Linked DNA regions of Homo sapiens. The protein of the gene in region 7 interacts with the protein of the main gene of each other region in a pairwise test. Each region holds a gene or a part of one and is shown on either strand. Other genes may lie near its edges.

The links.
Region 1: the proteins of NOTCH2NLA (region 7) and NEU2 interact in binary tests that used the Homo sapiens proteins (3 or more experiments, as listed by UniProt).
Region 2: the proteins of NOTCH2NLA (region 7) and UTP23 interact in binary tests that used the Homo sapiens proteins (3 or more experiments, as listed by UniProt).
Region 3: the proteins of NOTCH2NLA (region 7) and RAB3IL1 interact in binary tests that used the Homo sapiens proteins (3 or more experiments, as listed by UniProt).
Region 4: the proteins of NOTCH2NLA (region 7) and FRS3 interact in binary tests that used the Homo sapiens proteins (3 or more experiments, as listed by UniProt).
Region 5: the proteins of NOTCH2NLA (region 7) and NAXD interact in binary tests that used the Homo sapiens proteins (3 or more experiments, as listed by UniProt).
Region 6: the proteins of NOTCH2NLA (region 7) and PIGS interact in binary tests that used the Homo sapiens proteins (3 or more experiments, as listed by UniProt).

The regions. Positions count from the first base shown.
Region 1 is NC_000002.12:233,031,448-233,035,471, reverse strand, and holds NEU2 (sialidase-2), read right to left. Parts: upstream 2,801-4,024; coding exon 2,600-2,800; intron 1,357-2,599; coding exon 415-1,356; downstream 1-414. UniProt on the Homo sapiens protein: Exo-alpha-sialidase that catalyzes the hydrolytic cleavage of the terminal sialic acid (N-acetylneuraminic acid, Neu5Ac) of a glycan moiety in the catabolism of glycolipids, glycoproteins and oligosacharides.
Region 2 is NC_000008.11:116,772,354-116,775,184, reverse strand, and holds the end of UTP23 (rRNA-processing protein UTP23 homolog), read right to left. Parts: 3' UTR 501-2,831; downstream 1-500. UniProt on the Homo sapiens protein: Involved in rRNA-processing and ribosome biogenesis.
Region 3 is NC_000011.10:61,911,067-61,914,566, forward strand, and holds part of RAB3IL1 (guanine nucleotide exchange factor for Rab-3A), read right to left. Parts: intron 1-3,500. UniProt on the Homo sapiens protein: Guanine nucleotide exchange factor (GEF) which may activate RAB3A, a GTPase that regulates synaptic vesicle exocytosis. Promotes the exchange of GDP to GTP, converting inactive GDP-bound Rab proteins into their active GTP-bound form.
Region 4 is NC_000006.12:41,773,401-41,776,900, forward strand, and holds part of FRS3 (fibroblast growth factor receptor substrate 3), read right to left. Parts: intron 2,206-3,500; coding exon 2,019-2,205; intron 1-2,018. UniProt on the Homo sapiens protein: Adapter protein that links FGF and NGF receptors to downstream signaling pathways. Involved in the activation of MAP kinases. Down-regulates ERK2 signaling by interfering with the phosphorylation and nuclear translocation of ERK2.
Region 5 is NC_000013.11:110,622,045-110,625,544, reverse strand, and holds part of NAXD (ATP-dependent (S)-NAD(P)H-hydrate dehydratase), read right to left. Parts: intron 3,330-3,500; coding exon 3,179-3,329; intron 1,312-3,178; coding exon 1,266-1,311; intron 356-1,265; coding exon 267-355; intron 1-266. UniProt on the Homo sapiens protein: Catalyzes the dehydration of the S-form of NAD(P)HX at the expense of ATP, which is converted to ADP.
Region 6 is NC_000017.11:28,561,525-28,565,024, reverse strand, and holds part of PIGS (GPI-anchor transamidase component PIGS), read left to right. Parts: intron 1-1,117; coding exon 1,118-1,207; intron 1,208-1,502; coding exon 1,503-1,594; intron 1,595-3,395; coding exon 3,396-3,500. UniProt on the Homo sapiens protein: Component of the glycosylphosphatidylinositol-anchor (GPI-anchor) transamidase (GPI-T) complex that catalyzes the formation of the linkage between a proprotein and a GPI-anchor and participates in GPI anchored protein biosynthesis.
Region 7 is NC_000001.11:146,159,522-146,163,021, forward strand, and holds part of NOTCH2NLA (notch homolog 2 N-terminal-like protein A), read right to left. Parts: intron 1-3,500.

The DNA.
Region 1 (4,024 bases), on a different chromosome or scaffold from region 7:
CTCTGCTAATTTACACCATGGTCTTCCATCTCAGTTCTTCCCCAGGAACATAAGGAATGGTTCCCAAGAAGGAAGGAGTTGAACTAGAAATTTGTCAAGACCTACACAAAGCTGGGGGTAGGGGACAGGCAGACAAGGTGACAGCTGCGCTGCAGGACCCTCCACGCCTTCCCTATGGAGGGGCTATGGGAAGCCAGACACTTTTGGTTTCTGGGCTGAAAATAGAACCTTTTGGGAAGACTGGAACCACGCAGGAGGAAAAGAGCAAGAGGTGCACCTCTCTCCACACACGGGCGCCGAAGGGAGCCCAGAGTGGCCCCCACGTCCAGGGGCCACGGGAAGGAGAGGCAGCCGCAGAGCCTCCGAGCTGGGTGTGCAGGTGAAAGGCAGGCCCTTGAGGTGGGCACCACAGGCTCACTGAGGCAGGTACTCAGCTGGGAAGGCTTGCTTCAGGGTGAACATGAGAAAGACAATCTCCTCGTAATCATTGGCTTCGTACAGACACCCAAACAAGGGGGACCCATCAGGGCCGGTGCCCATGCTCTGGAGGTCTGAGTAGGCACAGCTGCCCTTGGCCAGCAGTACCGGCTCTGACCAGGCCTCAGGGGCTGGAGGTCGCGGGTTGAGGTAGGCACCCAGGTCGGCCCTCTGCCAGGAGTGTGTGGGGTGAGTGTAGAGCAGCCACTGGGCTGGGGAGCCAGGCCCCGAGCGGGGGCTGGGGAAGCTGATGACGCTCCCCTGGCAGCCCTGGGGCGGCGGCTCCACCAGCTTCTTCACCAGCTGAGACTCCTGGAAATCAAGCCCGTCATTGGTGCTCTGGGCCTGGACCCTGGCTCGGAGGTGGCTTCTCGCGTTGAGGGTCACCACCCTCTGCTCCCCAGTCTCGACTTCGGCCACCTGGCACTCCAGGGTGTCCTGGGCCACAAAGTGCCCTCGCGCCCACGTGCGCCCATGGTCATGGCTGAGGAAGCAGAAGGCAGAGGGGATCGGCCTTTGGATGGGGTGAAGTTTCCGGTAGGCGTAGGCGGGCACCACCAGGCTCCGGGCCCTGTCGTGAAGCTGCAAACAATGCCCCGGGCCCACTGCAAAGGTGGACCACTCCCGGTAGGCTGGGCCGATGGCCGCATCAGTGAGGTCTCTGGGGGAGCTCCAGGTCCTCCCGTGGTCAGTGCTGGTGACTTGGCACAGCCGCGTCACATTGGCCCTGGTCTGCAGCTGCTGTTGCTCCGTGACTTGCCCAGGGATGGCAATGAAGAAGAGGAAGAGGGTCCCCGTCTGCGCGTCATACAAGGGGCATGGGTTCATGGACCGGTGGCCATCCAGCCGGGCCTGGGCCACCACCTCCTGAGCTTGCCACTGAGTAGGGAGAGAGAAAGAAGAAGGCAGCCTTGAAACAGCTGGGGATGGTGCCAGGAGCTGCATGAGTGGGAGGGGTGGGCACGGGTGTGTCTCCCGGGTTAGAGTCAAAAGTCATCGAGAAGAACTCTTCACCCAACACTCATATCCTCCTTGCAACGTTTCCCCAGAGCTGCGGGGCCCAGGGTGCCACCTCACCCCTCCAAGGCAGCCACACTCGGCTGAGTGATTCTGTTCCTTCCATTGCCATCAATATGCATTTACAGAACACCCACCTGCCAGACCACAAGATATGAAGATGACTCGTGCATGAGCCATTCCCAACTTCATCCTGGTTCCTCCACTTCCCACCCCAGTCCAGCTCACCATCCTTGAATAGCAAAGCCCTGGCGGAAGGTGCAATAACCTGACCAGTACAAGACAGAATGTGACGGTCACCTCTCACCTTCTACACTCCATATCCTACTCATGTAGCCAAGGAGGAGTCACATTGAGCTTCCAGAATCCCCAAGTCTATGTCACATGTGCTGTCTGTCCCCATTTATTAACAGCTACCCCCATTGGGCAATTCTAAGCACAGACACAGCACCAAAAGTCTAACATCCATGGTCTCATCTAATGCCTCAATCCCCAGGGAACAGGTGTTAGTAGCTCCATTATTACAGTGAGCAAGAGACCGCGACAGGGAGGAGGAGTTGCCTAGGCCACATCTGTGGTCAGTGGCGGAACCAGGACTTGAACCCAGGTCCATCTGCTTCAAATCCCATGCTTTGAACAGCTGTGTAGTAATGACCACAAAGGAATGATAATAATATTAAACTCTTCAAATATGATCAGCCAGCCTTGGGTGCTGTCATCAGGATTAATTATTTAATCTATAAAATGGGACTTTAGGACACAAGCCATCACCCCACCCCAAGTCCCCAAGTTAATTTTACTCAAAGGACACAACCCTCCATTATGCAACACTGAACTATTCCTCCGTGAGGTCATCACGGATGCTGGGCAACTCATTCAATCTTTCATGAAAACAGATGGAGGCCAGCTGGACTAATTCACAGTGAACCCAGAGGTCCAGGGAACCATTAGGGGCACTTTCTCTGCTCTATCTCTCCTCCGGAGTACAGCCATTGAGGGATAAAGTTGTCCCTGTATTTCTTGAGATCCAGGACTGGCCCCTGATCACAGCAGCAAAGGGTGTGGCAGAGCCCTGGGGAGCCAGTGCAGACACCTCCTGCCTCACCTGAACCTGGTGGGTGGGTGCGTCGTAGTCTCCTCTGCGCAGGACAATCAGCTCTGCGTGCTCATCCTTCTTGCTTGCCCGCTGTTCCGCGAAGGCCAGCAGGGACTGCTGCCCAGGCAGGTAGAGCAGGGCAGGGATTCTGTAGGCATGGGCTCCCGACTGGAACACGCTCTCCTTCTGCAGGACAGGAAGGGACGCCATGGGGCTGGGGGGTGGACAGGAAGAGAAGATGTGTCACCTGCAGCCACACCTGAGATGGGCTCAGAGTCATTCACCAAGACAGGTGGTGCTCACCCCCTGGCTGAGTGGACCAAAGTCAGGGCGGCCTGTCCTCTTCCCGCGTGGGGTTCATTCTCCTTTCCTACATCTCAAGACCCTGCTTCTTAATTCTGCCTTTGCCTCGGTGGATATCGGGAGGGGGTATTGCAAAAGCGTGTTTTGGATTCGATTTTTATTCTAAGTTAACAATGCTCCTTACAACAGATTTTCGATAACCTCCAGCTGCTTTTGCCAAACCCAGCCCATCAATCCAGGGGCAAACCTCGGGAGGACAGCAGTGCAGGCCGGGTGGCATTCGGCAGCTGCCCAAATGCCAGAAAGTGACACATGGGAGCTTTTTATAACTCCAGAGCCCTAGAAAGTTGTTTCAAAGAAAAGGAAAAAGAAAAAGCATGGCTTCTAAGGCTCTGCTCCCCAGGCTGCCTGAGGCTGAGGCCCGTCTGCCCCCGCTGCTGCGTGGGCTCCCCCTGAGGCAGCGAGGGGGCGGCGCTGCAGTGGGAAAGGAAGAGACAGGGGCTCCTGACAGCTAACCCAGGCTGGGGGCGTGGGGTGCTCCAGAGGTCTAAGAAAATAACAATTAAAAATAAGTCTTCAGCTAAAAAGGGTAGGGAGGGGACAGAGGTAACTTGGGGACAGTGGGTGACAGTGATTTTCGGGCTAAGCTGCCTAGGTCCCTTTAGGAGGATGCATCCCGCAGCTCTGGGGAGTGTTGGCTGCAGGGCCCTGGCCTGGGGAGGATGGGCCAGTTGTTCCCAGATGAAGAATCTGCCCCAGGTCATACCCAAGAAGGGCTGCTTGATGATTGGTCCACTCAGAGCCTGAAGACCCTCTTCCTGAACTCCTGACCAGGAACAGTGCGGCTCCGGAGCTCCCTCCGGGCGGCTGGGCCTTCCCTGAGACTGCATTACAGCCGCCTCTTTCTCTGCTGCTCCTCCCTTTCCCCCAGAGGCTCTTGCCTGCCGTGGGTCTCCGTGTCAGAGCCGGCGTCCTGGGCACCCCGTCTGAGACACAGCCTTTGCAGAGGGCAAGTGGGCAAGAGGCCAGCAAGAGGGGCAAGGTTTGCCTTTGTGCACCCTTTTGTACTGCTCTCATTTTTCTACCACATGCATGCGTTATCTATTTAAAACTTAGCTTCTTTGAGAAATA
Region 2 (2,831 bases), on a different chromosome or scaffold from region 7:
GTAGTGCAGTGACATGATCAAGACTCACTACAATGTCAACCTCCCAGGCTCAAGTGATCCTCCCACCTCACCCTCCCATGTAGTTAGGACCACAGGCACATGCCACCACACCTGGCAATTTTTCGATTATTTGTAGAGATGAGATCTCCCTATGTTGCCAAGGCTGGTCTCAAACTCCTGTGCTCAAGTGATCCTACTACCTTGGCCTACCAAAATGTTGGGATTACAGACATAAGCCACCACACTTGGCCTTCATTTTCATTCATTCAACAAATATGTATTGACACATTCTACTCAGTACAAATTCGTGTATTATACATTCTATATTCTTATATGGAATATATATTTTTATAGAATATATTAAATGGAATATATAGAATATATCCTTATATGGAATATATAGACTATATTCCTGTATGGAATATAGGTATGGGGATAGTATTCACAAAACAAAAACAAAAACAAAAAAAAACAAAAACTGAAGTACAAGGAGATGAGACTTTTGTTAAAATATCTTTTAATTTTACCGGCAAAATACATCAATGACTAATATATTCCCGTATGGAATATATTCTTATTGGAATATATTCTTATATAGAATATATAGACTATGTATATATACATATGTGTATATACCTATATACATATATATATCTTGGAGATATAAAACTAATTGGGAATAATGTCATATATATAGATAGTAAGCAAACATTTTTTAAAACATTTTAAAGACTCCAAACTATTCATTTCTATCCACCTATAAAAAACTAGCAATTAAACCTGTCAAATCACAGCCATCTTGCTTTACGCAGATTCAGAAACATGAGATCCTTTTACCTTTGAAACTCTAGTTTCAAAGCTGTTCTAAAGTGACTTGGTTTTAATTTATATACTTGCAGGGATAAGAAGTAGCTGTAGGGCCATAAAAATGTAAAGAATACAGTATCGTGCCCATACACAACTGCAAACACTTATTTTTAAGTGTTCGTAAAAGATAGTGGTCTTCAGAAACACCCCTTTTCAGATTGGCAAACTTTCAGAGTTCAAAAGTGCATGTATTACACTTTTATCCCCAACAAAGCTAGTAGCTACCCTCTAAAGCAGAGGTTAACATTTTCTTTTTCCAAACCACAGAATGGATTATGATCCCATGTGCATACTCCCATGGTTCCCTTCCCCAAGTTGTATGAAAAAATAAAGCAAATAATTCTGAGGTTTTAGGGGTAGTGGTATAGGGATAGTATTCACACACAAAAAAACTGAAGTACAAGGATATGAGACTTTTGTTAAAATATCTTTTAAAGTAATTTTACTGGCAAAATACATAAATGATTAACCAGTTTTAAAATAGTAAACTTATTTATTTATTTATTTTTGAGACGGGGTTTCACTCTCTCACCAGGCTGGAGTGCAGTGGCATGATCTTGGCTCACTGCAACCTCCGCCTCCTGGGTTCAAGCGATTCTCCTGCCTCAGCCTCCCGAGTAGCTGGGACTACAGGCGCACACCACCACACCCAGCTAATTTTTGTATTTTTAGTACAGACAGGGTTTCACCATGTTGGCCAGGATGGTCTTGATCTCTTAATTTTGTGATCTGCCAGCCTCGGCCTCCCAAAGTGCTGGGATTACAGGTGTGAGCCACCATGCCCTGTCAAAATATTAAACTTACTAATACATTGTAATTTTTAGTACTTCTATAATTACTGCTTCATAAAAAAGTGGATTTTTCCAGCTCTCCAGTTCAGATGCTATTAACAGGTAATCAGATAGCACTGACTAAGTAGAAATAGATTAAGAGTAATACCTAAATTTAATGTATTTTAGCATATTGAAATGAGTATCATCAGTGTATATTTCATTTATCACTTTGTCTACACTTTATTAGGTGGCCTTAATGCTTGTCATTGACAAATGTTAACTTTCCTCACAAAACCTACACTATTCACTTTTTTCCAGTATTTTTACCTTCCTTATTAAAAATGTTTCTACCATCAAGAATTTAAAATAGAATCATGACATTGCAATCCAAACACTACCTTGGCTTGCCAGATTAGTCTACGTGTCACTCCTTGGTGTAAAGCTATAATTCCAACTTCCAGCAAAGAAGTATCTCTGAATTCAAATGAGAATGACATTTCTATGGGAATAAATGTGAACTGTCTCACATTTAACCATTAAGAATTTACTCATACGTCATCATGATAACCTAATGTTAGACTGAGAATCACTGCTCTAGTGTGGCTCCAGAAGCTGTCAGTCAGGAACTACTGATACGATTTCACTTGTCCAATAATTTTATACTTCCATCTTGTAGTACAAAAACATTTTAATTTTGGCCTGATAAATGACTAAAACAATTGCCGGGGGAATTCAGAGAGACACGTTTCATTATTCAATTCCTAACTGAATTGACCCTCATTGATCCTCAGACTAATTTAGACACTTTTCAATAACATTCACAGTCAATCTCAAAGAGAATATTATTTTTGAATTCTTGCTATTGAAGTTAACATTTACATCTAAAAGAAAATCATCATCCTTATTGGACAAGTAGAACTCAAACAAACAAACAAAAAAACTCTAGTCATAATAATGAAAATACTGAGTTTCTGATGTACAAAGAGTAAAATATTCATATACTGGAAAAATGGTGCAGTATAAATGGGCAAAATTTCACTCTTTCTAGTAGGAAGTCAATAAATAATTGATGTATCAAAAAGTAGCGGTATAATCATACAATTTGGAAATATAAATTCTTCAACTACTAGAATTGAAAGAGGAAGTTTCTTCTGTCAATGTGAAAGAGGGACTGCCTCTTTTTTTGTCACA
Region 3 (3,500 bases), on a different chromosome or scaffold from region 7:
GGCTGACCTCACCATTTTCCCAACAGGCTCTCATTTTTGCCTTGTGGGGCAGAGTGGGGACAGGGCCCAATTTTGTAGCCAGAGGAAACAGTGGTCCAGGAGGCCTGTGACAGAGTCTGTGACATCCTTCCCATCACCCCCAGTAGAAGAGCCCAAGGCCAAATCCCAATGGCAAGAAGTGTGGGAACATGGGAACAGTGGGACCACCCAGTAGCCACCAACTCCCCAACGCCAAAGGTGGCAGGAGCAGGAGGGAAGAAGGGCCTGACCTGCCCTTGGAGGGTAGCCAGAATCTGCAGACCCTCTTCCTCCTCATTTCCAGGCTGCAAGGCCAACTCCTGAGACTCAGAAATTTCAAAGAAGGGACCCTGGGCTCCTCGGGTCCAGCCCAAGCCAGAATCTCCAATCTCACACACACTTTAGCCTCCCAGACCAGAGGCCTGAAAACCTGGCTGTGAACACCCAAGTCAGTGGTGAACTCAGTCGTGGGGCAAGCAGGGACCACTTAATGTTCTGCTGCCCAGCGTCCCTACCCTCCTCAGTCCGGGTCCACCGCTCTCTGTACAAACCTCCTCAGTCCCCGTTCCCTGCAGAAACAGAGCCCAGCATCTGAGATGAGCCACAGATGCCTCTGGAAAGGAGCCTGTTCAGAGGGTAGGAGTCAAGGTCAGAGGTAGATGGGGCACCCAGCCAACATCCCCCATCCCAAAGCCAGCTCCCACTGCCGAGAGGCCCAGGCAGTTCATACAGGAAAGGCCCCACGGGTCACTTCCCCAGGAAACACACAACCAAAAGAAAATGCAGTAACCACAATCCTCACCCCACCAGGCCCACCCTAGGAGGGCCAGCAGGGCTCTTGCCCCGACCCACAAAATAAGAAGGAGACCTAGACTCCGTGGCCCTCGGTCTCTCAGTGTCCCCAAGCCAGCAGGGCCTGGCCAGTGGCCAGACCAGCCTATTCCTCAACCAGTGCCCAAGATGACCCTGTCCAGTTACCTCCTGGAACTAAAGACCCCTGTTGGTCATGGGCACAATGGATTCATTCAATAAGCAGGGGAGGGGACAGCAAGGGTGGTTCTGAAACTGGACGAAGGAGACGGCTGGGAGGGCACACTGGGACCACTCAGCGGGCTGCCAGGGCCCAGGCCTCTAGGGAGGCTGCAGAAACCCCGACCCAGGGCCTGGCTCCCCGGGGCGGTGCCTTGGCACAGGGGCCTGTTCAGATTCACGCTCAGCCTTTGCGGTGACACTGAGGGGACGGAGGCTCACAGCCATGTGATTAACATCCAGGGACCAAGGGAGTCCCAGGAAAGGGTTGGTGGGCCAGCTCTCAGGCCAGCCTGCAAGCCCAGCAAAGCTTGGCTCCCCTAGAGAGCGGCCAAGTCTTCAGCCCCAAACCCACAAGCATGTCAGGTTCCCAAGCGCTAGGCCACATCCACGCCAGCCCACCACTCCACAGGTGTCATGGCCTGGAAGCTCGGGACAATTGCAGGGAGATGCGCTCCTCCACCTGGTTTCCAGATGAGGCCCCTGAGGTTCAGAGAGGGATGGTGACCTGGCCAGAATGCACAGCAAGGAAGTGGCAGGATGGGAACTGAATGCAGAGTACAGGCATAGCGTATCACGTGGCCTGTCACCCAGAGGAAAGGGGATGAATGGCGGTTTTGGAGAAGTGAGGCAAGAGGCAGATGGGGTTTGAGGAAGTCTGAGACAGCGCCCAAGTACTGGAGGTGCCACCCAAGAATGCTGTACAGCCAGGCAGGACCTGGGCTAAGAGGGGACAGCAGAGGGGACACACAGAAACAAAGATGGGAAGGGGGAATTGTGGGAGGAACAGGGGCTGGATGGGGGGGCAGGAAAAAGCAATAACAATAATTAAGATAATTCAAAACTAAGGAAAAGGTGAAAGCTGAGAACAGCGGTACCCATGCTGGGAGTGAGGAACTGGGAGGGGGTCTTTCAGGGACAGGAAAGTGGGTGGCTGAGGCATCTGGGAAGTGGCACGTCCCGTAGGCAGCTGAGGGGGAATAGGCAGGATGGGGTGACGCTGTCGAGTGGCACTGGTTTCGGGGAGCAGCTGCAGCCTGAGCCTGGATGAGGGGCTGTCAGGGAGGACAAGGGCTTGAGAGCCAGAAAGGACGAGAGTGTTGGACACCAGAGCCGAAGAGTGTCTGGGACCCGGGGATGAAAGAGATCGTCATGAGTCTCACTGAATTGGGCCAGGAACCAATGAGCTCAAGTCAAGGAGGGGACAAAGGGACAGGTGGGAACCAAGGTGGGCCTGGGCCACAGGGGAAGGGGAGCCAGAGTAGGGAGAAGGGCACAACAGCATGTCCTAGTAGAGACCATGGAGGAGGAGTGGGGGAGAAGGTCAGGAACAGCTGGGGATGGGAAGCAGATCAGAACACCTAAAGCAGGTGAGTCAGGCCACGCCTCCGCCGGCCATAGCCCCAGGCCACCAGGCCAGTCCAGCCCACCCCTGGCGGGGGAATCCAGCCCTGTCTCTCCATGGGAGCCAGCACAGGGCCTAGGAGGGGGCGCATCTCACTACTCTTCTACAGGGCTGGGCACGCAGTACATCCTCAAATGCGCCTGTGGCGACCCTGCCCATTCAGTCCAAGAATTGACACCGAAGACCTCCAATAGCTAGTGTGTATACTGAGCACCCATTATGTGCCAGGCACCCCACCAGCCATGATCCATCCAATCTGCACGACCAGGCAGCCCCCTTCTTACCATATCCTATTTTGATTTGCATCTCCCTCCCGCTACCTCATTTCCAAAGACCTATTGGGCATAAATCATGTGCAGAGCTCGGAGGGTCTAGGACAAGCAGGATTCTAATGAGGATGTCTGCCCCCAACACCCATGTCCTGATTAAGGAACAGCAGGAAAGATCTCCACCTGTTGAGGGGTAGAGTAGGCAGTTAGATCACGGAGGGCTTCCAGGGAGCAGCAACAGTGAGGGTTATACAACCCCTTCCCAATGAAGAGGCCTGTGTGCCTGACCTGGAGCCCTCGGGCCATACTTCAGACTCTTGTCTCACGGCCTCTAGTCCCCTGTGACTTGGGCCTTACAGGCAGGAGCCCACAGATCCATGCCCTTAGAATAGCCAAGGCCCAGGGCAGTGAAGTGACTTGCTCAGGATCACACAGCCAGTTGATGGCCCCTACAGCCCTGCCTGCCGCAAAAACATGCTCCCCAACCCCTGGGAGGTTGGAGTGGTCTCATCTCATTCCTGGGCCATCCATCAATGCCTGGCCCTCTCTAGCCATAGGTATGATGAGCCCCGTCTCTGGGGAAACTGAGACCAGGGGGCTGGAACAGTGTCATGCAGAAACTTGAACGCTGGCTTCTGCTGACCAAGTCCCAAGTGTCCAGCACCATGTTAGATACAGAAGTACTCAAGACGCTGTCCTCACCTCGTCACCTTGGAGCAGGCTTGGCACCCAAAACTATGAATGTGTGAAACTGTGGGGAATCGGAAGGGGGACAACCC
Region 4 (3,500 bases), on a different chromosome or scaffold from region 7:
GCCCTGAGCATTCTTTCTAGGTCTGCTCTAGAATCCAAGAGCTACTAGAAAGGCTGGGTCCAAGGTACCCTGCCCCAGCACGCCCACACCACATTGAACACTCCAGCTATATTGCTCTGAAGCGAAATCATTTTCATAAGGATGTGTGTGTTCAGGGGTCACAAGAAGAGAATCAAAACCAAAGTGGAGGCCGGGCATGATGGCTCACGCCTGTAATCCCAGCACTTTGGGAGGCCGAGGAGGGTGGATCACCTGAAGTCAGGAGTTCAAGACCAGCCTGGCCAACATGGTGAAACCCTGTCTCTACTAAAAATACAAAAAATTAGCCAGGCGTGGTGGTGAGCACCTGTAATCCCAACTACTCAGGAGGCTGAGGCAGGAGAATTGCTTGAACCTCGGAGGTGGAGGGTGCAGTGAGCCGAGATTGTGCCACTGCACTTCAGCCTGGGTGACAGAGCGAGACTCTGTCTCAAAAAAAAAGAAAAAAGAAAAGAAAAAAAACAAAACCAAAAGCCAAGGTGGAAAGGATAGTATTAGATGAGTGAACATTCTTCTTTTATTTTTTCGGAGACGGAGTCTCACCCTGTTGCCCAGGCTGGAGTGCAGTGGTGCGATCTCAGCTCACTGCAAGCTCCGCCTCCCGGGTTCACGCCATTCTCCTGCCTCAGCCTCCCAAGTAGCTGGGACTACAGGTGCCCGCTACCATGCCCAGCTAGTTTTTTGTATTTTTAGTAGAGACAGGGTTTCACCGTGTTAGCCAGGATGGTCTCGATCTCCTGACCTCGTGATCCGCCCACCTCAGCCTCCCAAAGTTCTGGGATTACAGGTGTGAGCCACTGAGCCCAGCCAGGTGAGCGAACACTCTACCTCACATGCTTCCCCCATCTTCCTCTGCCTAACACCCCCTGCTTCCTAGGAAAAAAAACTCCATCCAGAGCACCAGCCCTCAGATCGCTGATGACAAGAGGGTCTACTCTGTTCCCTGCTTCTTCACTTATTAGCCCAGTGTGTGGCCAGAAAGCAAATGCCTACTGTATATAGGTCCCTAACCTCATAGATTAAACTCTGGCACGGGAAGGAAGAAATCATGGGCAGACTAGCTAAAGGCAAACATGGCAAGGCAATCACAAGGCTCCTCAATGCAGCCAGCCTCACAGCCCTTCAAATTGCAACACTGCAACTCAAGGTCCCAGGAACAGCAGGACTGGGCTGAGTGTCTGTCAATCAGGGGACTCAAAGATGCCCTTGGGGTACTGGGCCAGCATGGACTCCTCTGTAACAGGGGGACCTGGGACCTAGGGGAGGCTACGTGGGGTGTGCCTGTGCATATACCCACAACTAAGACACAATTAGCCTGGGGAATGGGACAACTATGGTTTGCACAAATAGGATGGGGAGGAAACAGGGAAGAAAAATAACTACTCTGGCAAAATATGACGAGAAGTAGAAAAGACTGGGAAAGACTGGAGTTGTAGAGAACCCCGTGTTGGGGCCAGGGGTAGCCCCTCTGGGAACCCAAGTGTAGATCAAACATCACTAGGAGCAAGGATGCCTCTGCCTGCTCTGCCTGCTCACCCAGCGCCCCTGCCTCTGCCTCATGAATTCCAAAGGTAAGATGCATGGAGGGAAGTCTCCTCCAGCAAACATGACCTCGGAGGCTCACTATTTTGTTGGCAGCCTCATCAGAGAAGCTTGTTCATTCCACCTCTGCACAGCCATAATCCCAAACTGCACTGAACACAATCCCATGCAGGATTCCTTTTGCACAGCTTAAGTCTGGATCCTAAGAGATAAACTCAGACCATGCCACTTCTTCAGAGAGCTGTGGCTGGCTCTAGCCTTGACCTTATGGAATAACCTACCACCCCTGACCTCTGACTGCAGGGAGAATACATCACACTCTACTGCCCACAGGTGATGGGGATAACACTAACCTCTTGAGGGCTAACCTATACATTAGGAACCCTGGAGTACTGCATAAGCCCCTATCCCAGGGTGGAGCAGGGCCTGGTACTCACCCTGGCCTGTCTGACATCGGCGGCCACTCTCAAAGGAGAAGAGGTTGGAGTCGTAGCCATAGCGCCGCAAGCAGAGATAAGGCCAGCGGACGGCCTCACGCCGATGCAGGTGCAGCACCAGCTCACTCTGCGTCAGCTCCATCACCCCAGAGCCCAGCTCCACCCCCTCATCATCCACATTTGTCACCTGGAGGGGAGAAGACAGAAGGGTCAATGAGTGAGTCCAACAAGTGTTTGCATGGGTCCCTGAGCCACTGGGAGACAATCTGATGCAGGACAAGAGGTGGGGAACCAAAGGTCACATCCGACTATCACAGACTCTACTGAATGCCACATAACTACATGAAGCAGTGCCATGGACCCACGGCAGTTCTCTGGGCAAATCCTACTTCTCTAGTGCTGAGTTTTGTCATATGGACAGTGAGGGAAGAGGTAGGTAGCTGACTTCCAAGGTCGGTTTGTTAGATAACAAATGTTAGACGACCCTAGACAGCCCATGCCTTAGTATCCAAGGGCCAGATGTTAATGGGGAAGGGGTTCAATTGTAAATTCAAAATCTTGAGACTGGGACACCCTGACCTAGGAAAGTCAAGCCCAAGGCAGAACCAATGCACATCTCCTCTACCACCTCCCCAACTGTGTGCCCTTACTGAGGGCTCCCTCTTCTGGTGGGCAGGAGAAACATGTGCTTCAACATGCCCCAGAATGAGGAAGGAGGAGGCTCCCTCTACAGAGAGGTGGGCAGGGGAGAGCACAGGTCGACTTGGGTCTGCCCTCAGCTTCCCACAGCAAACAGCAAACACTGATGTTGTGCTTACTGTGTGCTAAGCACTATTTAATTTATTTATTTATTTATTTTTTGAGATGGCATCTCGCTCTGTCACCCAGGCTGAAGTGCAGCGGTGCAATCTCAGCCCACTGCAACCTCCACCTCCCGGGTTCAAGTGATTCTCCTGCCTCAGCCTCCCAAGTAGCTGGGATTACAGGCGTGTGCCACCATACCTGGCTAATTTTTGTATTTTTAGTAGAGACGGGGTTTCGCCATGTTGGCCAGGCTGGTCTCGAGCTCCTGACCTCAGGTGATCCGCCTGCCTTGGCCTCCAAAAGTGCTGGTATTACAGGTGTGAGCCACCGTGCCTGGCCACTAAGCACTATTTTAAATACTTTACGTATATTAACTCACAAATACAGAATTTTGTTTTCTCTAAAAAAAAAAGGGGGGGGGATATATAAAGTTATAAAAATACACTGACAACAGTTCCAAAAGCACCATTATGGCATTTCTTCATTCTTGGTAGTATCAAGAGCCATGAAAACAGCAGTGGTCTGGGCCTCTTTTCCTCAGGCTACTTGAGAGGGTGTGAGCTCAAGAAGTCTCCATAAGCCCACAACCTCAGCCTGGCATTTGATTTGCTGTTAGAGAAGCTGAGGCAACTCCATTAAATTGTGTCTGAGCCCAAGAGGCCATGTTGGGAACACAGG
Region 5 (3,500 bases), on a different chromosome or scaffold from region 7:
CCCACAGGGCCTCCCTGCCTCTGGAGCTGGGCCCCGGCCATTTCCAACAGGCCCAAGCTCCCCCACCCACCTCTCCACCCCGCCGTCTCTGTCTTATTCTGACCCCAGAAGAACGGGCTCCTTCATTTCCCTACTTCCTCTACAGCACCTGCTGAGAAACTCTGAGGATGGAAAATCCATCAGGACGCTTTCGGTGTCAGTGCCAAAACCCCAAATGATGCAGGAGGGAAAGAGAACCTACGAGAAGCCGGCGCAGAGCGACTCACAGAACTGGGTGGACGATCAGCTCCGGGCTGTAGGCCTTAATCACAGGTGCGGCCGCACTGGCACAGAACACGTGGGACAAGTCTGCGCCCTGATGAAGGAGCACAAGAGGCCGACTCAGGGATCGCTCCGGCATCGCTGCCCACCCGCCAGACACAGGCGTCCAGCGCTCATTACTCAGCCCTGGTGACGTGCATGAGAAACGTACTAGCTCGGATTACACCCAGCCAGGTGGCTTAGCAAAGGGCCAGGGCGCAGAGCACAATACCTAAAAAGAAAGACTTTTGCCGCCACTGCAGAGGCAGGGTCAGAGCCACACACACCAGCACGGCCCAGCTCGGTCTGGTCACCCTCCAGGAGGAAGGGTCACAGGAAGAGGCCGGCCGTTAGCACTTGCTCAGCTCATGGGAAACTGCAGGATCAGCGGCTTCAGCTGCGACCTACAAAGGCATCCCAGGTGCACTTTGGTGGAGTACAATACAAATCACGCTTTAGGTTTTAAAAATGGGCTTCAATTGAGGCCAGGTGCAGTGGCTCACGCCTGTAATCCCAGCACTTCGGGAGGCCGAGGCGCATGGATCACGTGAGGTCAGGAGTTCGAGACCAGCCTGACCAACAGAGAGAAAACCTGACTCTACTAAAAATACAAACAAAATTAGCCAGGCGTGGTGGCAGGTGCCTGTAATCCCAGCTACTCGGGAGGCTGAGGCAGGAGAATCGCTTGAACCCAGGCGGCGGAGGTTGCTGTGAGCCGAGATCCCGCCATTGCACTCCAGCCTGGGCAAAAAGAGCGAAACTCTGTCTCAAAAAAAAATGAGCTTCAACTGAAGTGATCTTGTTTATGCACAGATGTCAGGATAGACTTAACGGTGTTTCTATTAGCTATGATTACCCTAAGATATTATTTAGATTTCTATCAGAAAACATTTGCTTTAATCATATTTAAATAATCAAACTCTCTACCAGAAAAATCCCAATAAAGAAATTTTAAGTAAACATACCACTTTGAGAGCTGAGATTGCTGCAAAATATGGGGCTCCAGTGTACCTAAAAAGAAGGTATTTAGAGTCAAAAACTTCTGAGAATAAGGTAAGCATACCTTGATCAATAAATAGGTTATCAATAAAAAATAGACATAAATAATATAGACATGGTTTATCAATAAATAACAGAGACATGAAGCACACAGCACAAACCCAACACCTAAAAGATGCTCAGCAAATGTTCAATGAACATGAACCAGGTTCGACTAGAAATGTCTTTTTTTTTTTTTTTTTTGAGACAGAGTTTCACTCTTGTTGCCCAGGCTGGAGTGCAATGGCACGATCTTGGCTCATTGCAACCTCCGCCTCCTGGGTTCAAGCGATTCTCCTGCCTCAGCCTCCTGAGTAGCTGGGATTACAGGCATGCGCCACCACACCCGGCTAATTTTGTAGTTTTAGTAGGGACAGGGTTTCTGCATGTTGGTCAGGCTGGTCTCAAACTCCCAACCTCAGGTGATCCGCCCGCCTCGGCCTCTCAAAATGCTAAGATGACGGGCATGAGCCACCGCGCCCAGCCAGAAATGTCGATCTTTTACATAAAACCTTCATGCATTTCAGGAGAGTGAATCTCTGGCAGTAATGCCTGCAGTCTCCCTGCAATGTGAATGTTCAAGGTAAGGAGCTGACCGCAGGCTTCTGCCTGGAGAGAAGAAAGTGACAACCACATGTTCGGAGCAGTCGGGCATGGACAGGGTCCCAGAGTGGGCAGACCCCGTCCTCCAAGAGTCACAGTCAGCAGAGGCCAGATGGGGGCCACCTGGGACAAACAAGAAACGGCACCCACCACCCAGCTGCTTCCGCCTGGCTGTTCTGGAATCCCTGGCTCTCCAGGTCTAAGGGCACTTCAGGCACAGAAAGGAAGAGCCCTGCCCTCCGTCAGATGGGCAAATGCAACCTTTATGTCCATTCCGAGCAGTGAAATGTTTTGCTAACCCAAGAAAGAGAGACCTGGGCAAATGCTGATACCCATCACCTTACATGGCCTTCTCCTGCAAAGCGGTGTCAATAGCGTTGTAAATGCAAAAGACAGTACAGAACAGGCAACATACATGCACACACTCTTCCATCATGTGAAAACAAGCCTCACTAATAAGAGAAATGCATTAAAACAACAAGAAAGCTTGTCGACTTCACTAGCAAAGGTTGTCCTCCAAGGGCTGCAGGGAACAGGTGCTCTTGGGAGGCAACACACACTAACGCAATGGGGGGACAATTCGGCAGCGTCACCAGCATGTAAAATGCACACATACCTGATCCAGTAACAACTCTAACACACCCTATGGCACGATCAACAGCTGCAAATGGAGGGATGGGCAAAGAGAGATACCACATCCATGCAAACAGAAAGCAAGCAGAAACAGAGGAGCCACGGCAGGCTTTCCGTCAGAGGCAGAAGGTATCCTTCACACCCAAGGACAACTTACAAACAGCTACGTACCAAACACAGCAGCAAAACAGAACAGAAGCAAGCTAGGGATTTGTCAAATTTCATAAATGACTTTCAGTAACATCTTTAAATTGACAAAGTAAACCAAGAGGTTGCTGAGTGTTTCTATCCTAAATACAAAAAACATGCTTGTGGTATGAAGTCCAGTTAAATACAGAAAAGCAGAAAGTGGAAAAAACAGGCTCATTTCCCCACTACGACAAAACTTAACACTGACACACATGAGGGAGTAATTCAGTCAGGGCTCCTCAGAGTTATTTCCTAGTTAATCAAAAAGTGGATCACTGAAAAATACTGAGTGTCCTATCAGGCTGCATTTGGAAATGATTACTGAGGTCAAACTAGACAGCGTGAATGACAGTCAGGTAAGCAGCCAGCCAGCAACTGACTTTTTAAACACCAACACTGCACATCAGCTACTTACTCCTGACAGCCTCCAACTACGCCTATTCTTCCATCTTGCCCTTTGTGCTTTGTGGAAGACAGAGGAGGTATGATATTTCTCACCAGCTGCAAAGTATTTTCCATATCCTTTATCGAATGTGCTTTACGTAGCGAAAACGCTCTTTCTAAAACTGAAAGACAAGAAAAATGAATAATTCAGAAAGGTAAACAGATATTGTTAGTACACATAATAGCCCATTAACCAAAACCCTCTCCAAAGTTATTACGAATGCTATAGATTTTTACCCAATGGATTTCTGTAAGCAAATATGATGTTCAAAATTACATTAACACATGCAATT
Region 6 (3,500 bases), on a different chromosome or scaffold from region 7:
ACATTGGTCAAGAACTTTAGAAAGAACAATACTGAATAACAATGAGAATAGAGGAGATAGCAGGCATCCTTGTTTTATTACTAACTTTACAGAATTATGTTTAATATTTTGTCATTAAGTGTGTGGTTTTTATTTTTTATTTTTTTGAGACAAGGTCTGGTTCTATTACCCTGGCTGGAGTGCAGTGGTGCCATCTCAGGTCACTGCAACCTCTGCCTCTCAGGCTCAAGTCATCCTCCCACCTCAACCTCCCAAGTAGTTGGGACTACAGGTGTGCACCACCATAACTGCCTTTTTTTTTTTTTTTTTGAGATGGAGTTTCGCTCTTGTTGCCCAGGCTGGAGTGCAATGGTGTGATCTCGGCTCACTGCAGCCTCCGCCTTCTGGGTTCAAGTGATTCTCTTGCCTGAGCTTCCCGAGTAGCTGGGATTACAGGCGCCTGCCACCACACCCAGCTAATTTTTTGTATTTTTGGTAGAGATGGGGTTTCATCACGTTGGCCAGGCTGGTCTCAAACTCCTGACCTCAGGTGATCCACCCGCCTTGGCCTCCCAAAGTGCTGGGATTACAGGTGTGAGCCACCATGTCTGGCACATACCTGGCTAATTTTTGTATTTTTTGTAGAGTTGGGGTTTCATCATGTTGTCCAGGCTAATCTCCAACTCATGAGATCAAGGGATCCGCCTGCCTTGGCCTCCCAAATTGCTGGGATTACAAGCATGAGCCACCGTGCCCAGCCTGTGTATTTTGTTTTTTATCAGGAACATTCACTGAATTTAATTATTTTGGGGCAGTGATTGGAATGACCATACAGTTTTTCTCCTTTTGCCTATTAATGTAATGACTATTGAAATAGATTTCCCAGTGGGAAGACGTTTCACGCTGAAGGACCAGTGTGTGCAGAGGTGAAGGCAAGAGCTGCGGCAGATGGGCGAAATGGGTGTCATGTGTTTGATATCATCTATGCAGAAATCATTAGAGTTGGCTGCAGCTGCTTGGTCTTTTTCTGTAAACAGCCATCTTGCTGTCCTCAGATGCTGGACAGTGTTAGGTCTGGGAAGGTGGGCAGAGGCATGATGCTTGCCCTTTTCATTGTGCTACTTCTTATCCCTCCCAGACAAAATGAAAATCAAATGCCGTTTCCAGAAGGCCTATCGGAGGGCTTTGGACCATGAGGAGGAGGCCCTGTCATCGGGCAGTGTGCAAGGTATGGGAAGGGATGAGCACACCATTTTAATGTGAAGCCCTCTTTTTCCTTCTGATCTCTAAGTGCATAGTTCCCATGCTTTGGCTTACTTCCAAAACCTCTCTTGGAATGCTGGGAATGAGGAACTGTGGGATTCAGCCCAGTCCACTGAGGGCCAGAGAGGTTGATTGGCTTACCCAAGCCTGACCACTGTGTCAGCTGAATGTGAGTGAAGGGGTGGGTTAGGCATTCTTTGGGGCTGGGGGGAGATGGAATGGTGTTTTGCTCTTGGTGTACCACCTGTTCTTGCCCCCAGAGGCAGAAGCCATGTTAGATGAGCCTCAGGAACAAGCGGAGGGCTCCCTGACTGTGTACGTGATATCTGAACACTCCTCACTTCTTCCCCAGGTAAGGTAACAGAGAGGCTGCGACTTTGCCTTATCCCTTCAGCTCGTGGACTCCTGGGTCACCTCCTTCTTGCATCATTGCTACCCATTTCTTCCATTTGCTACAGAAAACTCTCCAAAAAAAAATTTTTTTTTTTTTGAGACGGAGTCTTGCTCTGTTGCCTAGGCTGGAGTACAGTGGCGGGATCTCGGCTCACTGCAGCCTCCGCCTCCCGGGTTCAAGTGATTCTCCTGCCTCAACCTCCTGAATACCTGGGATTACAGGCATGTGCCATGTAATGTATTTTTAGTAGAAATGGGGTTTCACCACGTTGGTCAGGCTGGTCTCGAACTCCTGACCTTGTGATCTACCTGCCTTGGCCCCCCAGAGTGCTGAGATTACAGGCGTGAGCCACCGCACCCGTCCTCCACATATTTTTAATAAAGAATGCTGGCTGGGTCTGGTGGCTCACACTGTAATCCCAGCACTTTGGGAGGCCGAGGCGGGCAGTTTGCTTGAACTCAGGGGTTCAAGACCAGCCTGGGCAACATGGCAAAACCCCATCTCTACAAAAAATAAAAAAAATTAGCTGGATGTGGTAGTCCCTGTTACTTTTGGAGGCTGAGGCAGGGGGAGCGCTTGAGCCTGGGAGGTGGAGGTTGCAGTGAGCTAATATCATGCCATTGCACTCCCCATCTCTACTAACAATACAAGAATCGGCCGGGTGCGGTGGCACATGCCTGTAATCCCAGCACTTTGGGAGGCCGAGGCAGGCGGATCACTTGAGGTCAGGAGTTTGAGACCAGCCTGGTCAACATGGTGAAACCCCATTTCTACTAAAAATACAAAAATTAGCCGGGCGTGGTGGTGGGTGCCTGTAGTCCCAGCTACTCGAGAGGCTGAGGCAGGAGAATCACTTGAACCCAGGAGGTGGAGGTTGCAATGAGCCAAGATAGTGCCACTGCACTCCAGCCTGGGCGACAGAGTGAGACTCTGTCTCAAAAAGAAAATTTATAATCAAATATTTAATTTTTATAAAAGCACTAAAGAAAATGTTAATGAACGTCCCCATCCCCACCCCCAGCTCACAAACTGCAGTGCAGTAGCACGGTGTGTACTTCCATGGTTATACTCCATTCCCTTTTGGCCCAAGGCAACCAGATTTTGTGTTTGTAATTTTCTTGCTTTTCCTTAGAGTTTGATCACATATGCTGTATCTCTGTAAACAATGTATTTAATTTTACATTTTTGAATTTATATAAATGGTGGCTTATAACACATGTTCCTCTGCCACTTTTATTTTATTCCCTTCATGTGGCAGAGCCTGGTGAGAGAATCATCCATAATTATGTAGTTGAATCTATGTATCATTGTATAAACATAAACATAATTTACCCATTCTATTGCTAATGGACATTTGGATTATTTCTAGGTTTTACTGTTAGAAATAATGCTATTATGAATACTTGTTTCTTTGCCATGTGCCATTTTTATATCAGACTCTCCAGTTGTCTGTTTATTCCGCTTTTCTTGCTCAGCATGCCATCTCTGAGTTTCCATTTCACCATTTTACCAGCCCCTGAAGAGTTAGATGCTGCCTGGACCCATGTCAACTGGGAAAAAGAAGAGAACGGAGACAAATGAAAATACTCAATATATACTCATAGCTCAGAAATGCTGAGTTAATAGCTCATGAATCTCAAGAGAGGTGCAAACCTGTTGGTCATTGGCAAAGGGGCAGATTCGGAACAGTAGGAGCCAGGGTGCTTTTTGGCTTTCTTTTCTGAGCCATGGGCATTCTGTCTCTTGCTCACCCCCACAGGACATGATGAGCTACATTGGGCCCAAGAGGACAGCAGTGGTGCGGGGGATAATGCACCGGGAGGCCTTTAACATCATTGGCCGCCGCATAGTCCAGGTGGCCCAG
Region 7 (3,500 bases):
ATAGGCACTAACTTGCTGCCTATGCTTCTTCATCTCTGAGTGGAGATGAGCTAGTAAGCTGACTGAGGTATAGCGCTATCACAAAAACCAAAAGGATGACCTTGATCTGTGATGATTCCTAAAGTGATAGACAAAAATAGCATATGTATAAAAGATGATCAGAATCGGCCGGGTGTGGTGGCTCACACCTGTAATCCCAGCACTTTGGGAGGCCGAGGCGGGTGGATCATGAGGTCAGGCGATCCAGACCATTCTGGCTAACAAGGTGAAAGCCCATCTCTACTAAAAATACAAAAATTAGCCGGGCATGGCGGTAGGTGCCTGTAGTCCCAGCTACTCAGGAGGCTGAGGCAGAAGAATGGCGTGAACCCGGGAGGTGGAGCTTGCAGTGAACCGAGATTGCACCCTGCACTCCAGCCTGGATGACAAAGCAATACTCCATCTCAAAAAAAAAAAAAAAAAAAAAAAAAAAAAGGTGATCAGAATCTTGCAGAACACACCAAGAAGAGATCCTTCTTAACAACAAAGGAAGAAGTTTTAATTTGGGACCATTTCAGAGTGACATTTTAATTATGAAGAAGGCATTACTGTCATTTCCACTAGCCAGAATTAAAATATTTTAAGTGGGTATATGCCCCCCTACTTTGCCTCCTAATAGCAAAACAACTCAAAACTGACAATCAGGAAGAAATTATTCTTATAACACCAAATATTTTCAGTGACTTACATCATCAATACCATCATCATCATGATGGAGATCATGGATCATCCTAACTACCCTCTACCCCACCAACACCTTTTGATGAATGATATGGTTTGGTAGTGTCCCCACCCAAATCTCAACTTGAATTGTATCTCCCAGAATTCCCATGTGTTGTGGGAGGGACCCAGTGGGGTAACTGTATCATGGGGGCCAGTCTTTCCTGTGCTATTCTCATGAGAGTGAATAAGTCTCATGAGATCTGATGGGTTTCTCAGGGGTTCTGCTTTTGCTTCTTCCTAATTTTCTCTTGCCACCACCATGAAAGAAGTGCCTTTTGCCTCCCACCATAATTCTGAGGCCTCCCCAGCCATATGGAACTGTAAGTCCAATTAAACCTCTTTTCTTCCCGGTCTCGGGGATATCTTTATCAGCAGCGTGAAAATGGACTAATACAGTAAATTGGTACCAAGAGTGGGGTTTTTGCGAGAGTGCCAGCTATCCCGAGGGAAACTTTGGAGGGAACCAGCTACTAGATGGTTCAATTAGTCTTTCGCCCCTACACCCAGGTTGGATGACCGATTTGCACATCAGGACTGCTACGGACCTCCACCAGAGTTTCCTCTGGCTTTGCCCTGCCCAGGCAGAGTTCACCACCTTTCAGGTCCTAACATTTGTGCTCATGCCCCACCTTCCCAGTGCAGAAAACAAGATGGGCCGGTGGAAAGCTGACCTGGCTACTGCCACCGCAGAGTGCCCAATTTGCCAGCAGCAGAAACCAACACTGCGCCTTTGATATGGCACTATTCCTCAGGGTGATCAGCCAGCTACTTGGTGGCAGGTTGATTATGTTGGACTTCTTCCATTGTGAAAAGGGCAGATGTTTGTCCTTACTGGAATAAACACTTACTCTGGATATGGGTTTGCCTATCCTGCATGCAATGGTTCTGCCAAGACTACCATCCGCGGACTCATGGAATGCCTTATCCACTGTCATGGTATTCCACACAGCATTGCCTCTGACCAAGGCATTCACTTTATGGCTAAAGAAGTGCAGCAGTGGGCTCATGCTCATGGAATTCACTGGTCTTACCATGTTCCCCAACATCCTGAAGCAGAACGGTGGAATGGCCTTTTGCAGTCACAATTACAATGCCAACTAGGTGAGAATACTTTGCAGGGTTGGGGCAAAGTTCTCAAGAAGGCTGTGTATGCTCTGAATCAGCGTCCAATATGTGGTACTGTTTCTCCCATAGCCAGGATTCACAGGTCCAGGAATCAAGGGGTGGAAATGGAAGTGGTACCACTCACCATCACCCCTAGTGATCCACTAGCAAAATGTTTGCTTCCTGTTCCCGTAACATTAAGTTCTGCTGGCCTAGAGGTCTTAGTTCCAGAGGGAGGAACGCTGCCATCAGAAGACACAACAACAATTCCATTAAACTGGTAGTTAAGATTGCCACCAGGACACTTTGGGTTCCTACCTTTAAGTAAACAGGCTAAGAAAGGCGTTACAGTGTTGGCTGGGACATCAAGGCTATCAAGACCCAGGCTATCAAGATGAAATCAGTCTACTACTCCAGAACGGAGGTAAGAAAGAGTATTCATGGAATACAGGAGATCCATTAGGGCGTCTCTTAGTATTACCATGCCCTGTGATTAAGGTCAATGGGCAACTACAACAGCCCAATCCAGGCGGGACTACAAATGGTTTGGGCCTCTCCATCAGGAAAAAAAAAAACACAACCTGCTGAGGTGTTTGCTGAAGGCAAAAGGAATACAAAATGGGTAGAAGAAGGTAGTCATCAATACCAGCTACTACCATGTGACCAGCTGCAGAAATGAGGACTGTAATTGTCCTCAGTATTTCCTCCTTCTTTTATTAAAAACATGTCTGTGCTTGCACACACTTGTACTAAGAAAATATCTTCATTTTATTTCCTTTCTCCTTTATCATGTGACATAAGATTTATTGACTTCACATCAGCATTTAAGTATCGTTAACTTTATGTAAGAGTGTTTCAGTTGGGGACTAGTGTGTTTCCGGATGTATGAAGAATAGTTGTACTACATCAGGTGTAATTATGACCTAATTATTGTCTTTATTTGAAGATTATGTGTGATCTCAGGAGATGTGTACGGGTTCAAGTTGACAAGGGGTAGATTTGTGGTGGTTAAAACTGAGTGTGTCAACTTGATTGAATTGAAGGATACAAAATATTGATCTTGGGTGTGTCTGTGAAGGTGTTGCCAAAGGAGATTAACATTTGAGTCAGTGGGCTGGGGAAGGCAGATCCACCCTTAATCTGGATGGACACCATTTGATCATCTGTCAGCAAATATAAAGCAGGCAGAAAAACATGAAAAAGCGAGACTGGCCTAGCCTCCCAGCCTACATCTTTTTCCCGTGCTGGATGTTTCCTGCCCTCAAATATCGAACCCCAAGTTCTTCGGTTTTGGAACTCAGACTGGCTCTCCTTGCTCCTCAGCCTGCAGACAGCCTATTGTGGGACCTTGTGATCATGTGAATTAATACTTAACAAACTCTCCTTTATATATATATAAAGATTGCCAATATATATATATTAAGATTGCCACCAAGACACTTTGGGTTGGAATATATATACATACATATATATTCCATTAGTTCCATCCCTCTAGAGAACCCTAATACAATGAAAAATTAATATAACAGTATTCTACACTAACTGATCCAGTATAGTCTTCTGAGTACATTTTTCACTTTTTTGCTTATTGCATTTATAGAACTCTTGGTTTAGTGCTTAAAGCAGGAGAAAAA